2 separate regions of the Homo sapiens genome follow, and region 2 is linked to region 1. Evidence: fine-mapped expression QTL. A gene starts in region 1. The other region holds a variant in brackets. All regions are shown on one strand. Distances are between the middles of the regions.

Region 1 (2,910 bases):
CCCCTGCCTGGTTTAGCACAGCTCCAGATTGCAGAATTCCACAGCTATATTGCGAAGGCTGAGCCTCCTCTGCATACTGACAGTGCCTCAACTCCACCCAGGTTCTCCACACCTCTCGGCAATCTCAGGTCACCTTGGGACCAGGTTCACAGCACTGCCTTCCTCTCCTGCCCTGCCAGCCTGAGGTGTGATACTGACCGTGCGCCACATTGCTGATGCAATCGATGTATTCTGCCCCCTGTTCATCGTACATGTACTGCCCTTGGGCCCGGACAATCTTAACAGGATCCTCGGGAAAAAAGAGTCTGCAGGAAGAGCTGTGGGGACAGGCAAGGAGTGGACAGCCATGTCTGAAGACCGAAAGGGTGAAGTCTACTCATCGCAGACCCCCGCCCACCCCTTCCCAGTTTCTGGTGGCGGGGGGGAAATGAGAGCTGGAAGGGCAAGGTGCTGCTTCCCTGCCTTGTCTCTCCACTCCACAGGTGGTTGCAAAGCAGGAAGCAGATGGGGTAACAAGTCGCTGAAACTTCGGATTGTTTCTGAAAGCATTTTCAGCCTCTGTGGCCTCCTTGCTCATTTCTGCATGTGTCCGCGTCAGTCTCCCGGATCCTGAGAAAAGGTGGCTGCCCCGTCCCATGGGGACTCCATAAGGCCGCGTGTCTTCGATGGGATGGGCCAGGGCACCAACATTAGGTGCCTGGCTCTCAGCCCTAAACAGCTCCTTGCCAGCCACGTGGCCCTGCTGCCCCTCGCTGGGTGCCAGCCCTAAGCTCCAGTGGGAGGCGACCTCACCCACCGTCCCACCGAGGGCCCCCTCACAGGTCAAGTGTGCTGCCTGTGAACCGACTCCCCCGACTCTCCCTTGTCTGCCCTTTCAGCCCCCTCCCAGGTCACTCTCGAGCCAGGCCCAGGTGCTGCTGACGGGCCACCCTGGGTGAGGTCCTCTCAGGCGCCAGGGTGAAGGTCTTCTCCGGAGTAAAGGCTGCCAAGCGAGGCTGACACAGCCGAACAGCGGTGAGGGCGGGGCCGTCTCCTGAACTGGGCGGCCTGGAGACGGCGCTGTCGGGGAGGCGGCCCCGGAGACCACCCGCCGGGACTGCCCAACGGCGCCGCCCGCCTCGGGCCCTAGAAGCTCCAGCGGGGCCGGGGCAGCGGCCGGACGGGATGGGTAGCAGCGGCTTCCTAGCCGGAGGCGCGTGCGTAGTGCGTGCGTGCGTGCGTCGTGCGTGCGCGTGCCTCTCCGCGCAGCCCCGCGCCCCCCGCCGCCCGCCCCCCGCCCGGGTACCTGATGAGCCGTTGCCTCAGGGCCAGCGTGTCGGCCTTCGGGCGCTGGTCTGCGGCCATGGTGGGTGGCCGTCAGTCGGTGCCGTGACGCCACGCGGAGACGTCGCCGCGCGGGCTGGGCCTCCAAGGCCCCGCTCCGGGCCCCGCCCCTGCCTGGGTCGGGATTTGGGGCTCAGGTTCGCACTCGGCCCCGCCCCGAAGCGCCCGCGTTGCGGTGGTTCATTTCTTCGCTTGCCCACTGGGCCTGGCAGCCTTCCGGCCCGTGGTCGTGCCTTGGCAGTCCCGCGCAGGAACTCGAGCGCTGCCCCGTCTCTGGTTCCGGGACGCGCCCCGGGCCTCGCCCCGCAGGCCCCGCCCCGCAGGCCCCTGCGGCCTCCCTTCCGGGAAAGGGTCCCGGACGACCCCGCCCCTGCTCCCGGCGCCCAGGCGGGGCTCGGAGCTCCTGCAGGCCTTCTCTGGGCCAGACTCAGTCTTTGAGTCGCCTTGTGCATAAAATGGGATGAACTGTGAGGCCTAAGTGCGAGTATGTGACTGGTACCTTACCCGGGCCTGGTACACAGTAGGGGCCTCAGGGTGGGAGAAGCAGGTCCTAGGTTTTCCCAGCCCCATGAAGGGGCAGCAGGAAGAGCAGAAGGAGAGCCCAGGGTCCCTTCTGGGGCTGACCAAGGAGATCACCATGGGCTTGACCTTCAGGGCACCATAGTTCCTGCTAGAATCTAGGCAGGGTGAACCGGACGAGCTGTATCGTCGCTGAGAGAATCATGCAGCGTTTGGGCAAGAAGAGAGGTTGGGAATCCTCCTTGTGGTACATGTCGGTGACCCTGAAGCCCAGAAAGGGAAAGGGTTTTGTTGTCAGACACGCAGCAAGGCTGCAGAGGCTGGACTCCTACTGAGGTCTTCTTGACTCCCAGCCCAGGGAGTGAGAAGAAAAAGCCTCCCAAGGGGCTGGGATATGAGAGAAAAGCCCCCTCCTGGGGTGAGGCACTGGGGCTTTCTGCCTTGAAGAACCCTGGAACACGGGCCTGGGACTGCAGCAGGTGCAGGGGAGGCTCCTGATTGTCCCTTCTTTCTGTCCACATCATGATTCCCAGGCCTCTGCTTCACTCCCTCATTGCTGATTTCTTCTTCTCTTCCCAATACAGTTGTAAGATGCATAAGGCATTTATTGAACTCTTGACCTCAGATGATCTGCCTGCCTCGGCCTCCCAGAGTGCTGGGATTACAGGCCGGGTGAGCCACCGCACCCGGCCGCTTAAGGCATTTATTAAAGAACATTTGGAGTTTCTTTTTTCTTTATTGTGTAAAATATACATAACAAAATTTTACCATTTTAACCATTTTTAAGGATACAATTCAGTGGCAAAAGTACATTCACATCGTCGTGCAGCCATCACCACCATCCATGCAACAGGACTTTTTCATCTTCCCTAAAAGAATGGAATTTCTTATTTTTAACTGTAAAGCTGAATTGAATATTTTACATGATTTTTGGAAAAAATTCTTCCCAAATTAACTGCGAGGTTAACTGCTTGTGGCCTGTATTTTTTTTTTTTTTTAAAGAAAGGGTCTTATTCTGTTGTTCAGGCTGGAGTGCAGCATTGCAGTCTCTACCTCCCTGGGATCATG
Region 2 (2,910 bases), 35 kb before region 1:
TAGGCTTTCTCCCCACCTAATCTGCAGTAGTGAGTCCTAAAATCTGTCCCTGTCCCAATGACTGGTGCCTAGAATGCTTCATAAAAGTGAGAGTCCAGCCCCAGAGGTCAGGGAGTCTGAAGTTTCAAAGACTACACAGGGGATAATGTTGCAGATGAGGCCGGGCCCCTGTGTGAGCTGTGCCCACTGTGTGCAGCTTTGTGAGCTCTCCAGGAAACTGGGAGGATTAGGGTTTTGTATGTGAATCACATACTTCATTAAGGACTGATTCCAGTATAGGGCTCTAGCCATTTCTGATTGGTTTCTGATGGACAGAGGCTGCCTCTGAGACTCAGCAGGGCGTGGGGTGGCTGTGGCAAGAATGTGTGATTTTAGGGAGGCCGCCAGCAGATTCTCTCTCCAGATCTCTTACTTGTCTGTTTCAAGGATTTGACTTGAGATGTATTTTGAGATATATTGTTGCGGGGTGGCTGGGGGCCTGGGGGTGTCAGCAGGCAAAGGAATGTTCCCTTGGATGCTTCCACTGTTGCTGTTAGCAGTCACAGCAGCTCTCACAGCGGGCGCTGTTCTAAACCCTTAGCAGCCGTCCTCCCATAGCCCTGCAGGATGGTGGAGAGACAGGTGCCATTCTCTTTTTTTTTAAGATGAAGTAGGTCGGGAGCTGTGGCTCATGCCTGTAATCCCAGCCCTTTGGGAAGTTAAGGCAGGCAGATGGCTTGAGCCCAGGAGTTTGAGACTAGCCTGGGCAACACAGGGAGACCCTGTCCCTAGCTAAATAAATAAATAAGCTGGGTGTGGTGGTGCATGCCTGTAGTCCCAGCTAAGTGGGAGGCTGAGACGGGAGGATCACTTGAGCCCAGGAGGTCGAGGCGAGCCGTGATCACATCACTGCACTCAGAGCAAGACCCTGTCTCAGAAAAAATGTAAAAAAAGATGAAGAAGCTGAACTTCATGGAGGTCTGCTTAGGGATCCACATCTCAGATGCTCTTGGTCAATGTCAATAGGTTTAGTGGGACCCTGGAGGAAGACATTAGAACATGGTGGGGGCTGGGTTTAGCTGGACAGTGCCTGCCTCATCCGCTGGGGGTCACTGTGACTCAGCTCCCACTGATTCTGGACACAGGACACTGTGGCCCAGTGTGACCTTAGCTGACAATTTTTCAAAAGTAACTGGACGTATAACCTTGTGTAGAAATGCCATCATCCGGCAGGGCGCGGTGGCTCACACCTGTAATCCTAGCACTTTGGGAGGCTGAGG[C/A]GGGTGGATCACGAGGTCAGGAGTTCGAGATCTGCCTGGCCAACATGAGGAAACCCTTTCTCTACTAGAAATACAAAAATTAGCGTGGTGGTGCATGCTTGTAATCCCAGCTACTTGGGAAGCTAAGGCACAAGAATCGCTTGAACCCAGGAGGTGAAGGTTGTAGTGAGCCAAGATCATGCCACTGCACTCCAGCCTGGGCGACACAGTGAGACTCCATCTAAAAAATATACATATATGTGTATATATATGTGTGTGTGTATATATATGTATATACATGTATATATATACGTATATATGTGTACATATATACGCATATATATGTATATATTATATATATACATATATACACATATATACACATATACACATATATACGTATATATACACACACATATATATGTGTATGTGTGTATATGTATATATGAAAGAAATGTCATAATCCATAAATGTTGGCAAACAATTTTTTCAAATGAGCCAAACACTGTGTAGGACTGGGTGAGGTGGTGTGCAATTTTAGTCTCAGCTGCTAGGGAGGTTGAAGCGGGAGGATCACTTGAGGCCAGTAGTTTGAGGCTACACTGAGCTGCAATCACGCAGGTGAATAGTGACTGCACTCCAGCCTGGGCGACACAGTGAGACCTCATCTCAAAAACAAAAACAGAACAAAGCACTGTACAGGGCAAGCAAGTAGGTTCAAGAGTCAACTTTAGTCCACAAGGTGCTGGTTTGAAACAGTATTAGTCTGTTTTCACATTGCTATAAGGAAATACCTGAGACTTGGTAATTTATAAAGGAAAGAGGTTTAATTGACTCAGTTCCGCATGGTGGGGAGGCCTCAGGAAACTTACAATCATGGCGGAAGGCACCTCTTCACAGGGCAGCAGGAGAGAGAATGAGTGCCAGCAGGGGAAATGCCAGATGCTTATAAAACCATCAGATCTCGTGAGTACTCACTATCACTAGAACAGCATGGGGGAAACCGCCCCCACGATTCGATTACCTCCCACCAGGTCCCTCCAATGACACATGGGGATTATGGGGATTACAATTCAGGATGAGATTTGGGGCTGGGCGAAGTGGCTTACGCCTGTAATCCCAGCACTTTGGGAGGCCGAACTCCAGAGGTCAGGAGTTTGCGAGCAGCCTGGCCAACACAGTGAAACCCTGTCTCTACTAAAAGTACAAAATTAGCCAGGTGTGGTGGCGCACACCTGCAATCCCAGCTACTCGGGAGACTGAGGCATGAGAATTGCTTGAACCCAGGGGGCAGAGGTTGCAGTGAGCTGAGATCATGCCACTGCACTCCAGCCTGGGCAACAGAGCGAGACTCTGTCTCAAAAAAAAAAAAAAAAAAAAAGATCTCGTATTCATTCTGCAGGCACTGGCGTGCCCACCGTAGGAGTCAGGGTGGAGGAGACAGACCCGATGCAGGGTCTCAGGGCGCTCACAGTCAATGTCAACAGTGTGGCCCATGTTCTGAGGGGCACCCTTCCTCGGGGTATGACACAACACTTCCCATAGGAGGAGGAGGAAGTCTGTTGGATGTTGTGTTTGGTTTCTGGGGCTGCTGTGATCAAGTGCCGCAACCCGGTGGCTTACAGCAACCCAGCTGTATTCTCTCACAGTTCTTGAGGCTGGAAGTCTAAAA

The links. PIP is the estimated chance that this variant, and not a neighbour inherited with it, causes the effect.
Region 2: its variant is fine-mapped to the expression of PHYKPL in left ventricle (GTEx, PIP above 0.99).

Annotation. Positions count from the first base shown.
Region 1 is chr5:178,231,207-178,234,116 of GRCh38, forward strand. It overlaps PHYKPL (5-phosphohydroxy-L-lysine phospho-lyase), which reads right to left and starts at 1,596. Exons shown (of 13, transcript NM_153373.4): 1 at 1,286-1,596; 2 at 199-317. The coding sequence starts at 1,344. It overlaps LOC112267937 (a long non-coding RNA gene), which reads left to right and starts at 2,832. Exons shown (of 3, transcript XR_002956238.2): 1 at 2,832-2,910. RefSeq lists silencers at 1,021-1,340, 1,421-1,830 and an enhancer at 1,220-1,758.
Region 2 is chr5:178,196,082-178,198,991 of GRCh38, forward strand. No RefSeq gene overlaps it. Among named protein-coding and RNA genes, the nearest start is that of HNRNPAB, 7.0 kb to the right of the region's middle. The variant C/A (reference allele first, on the strand shown) is at 1,260.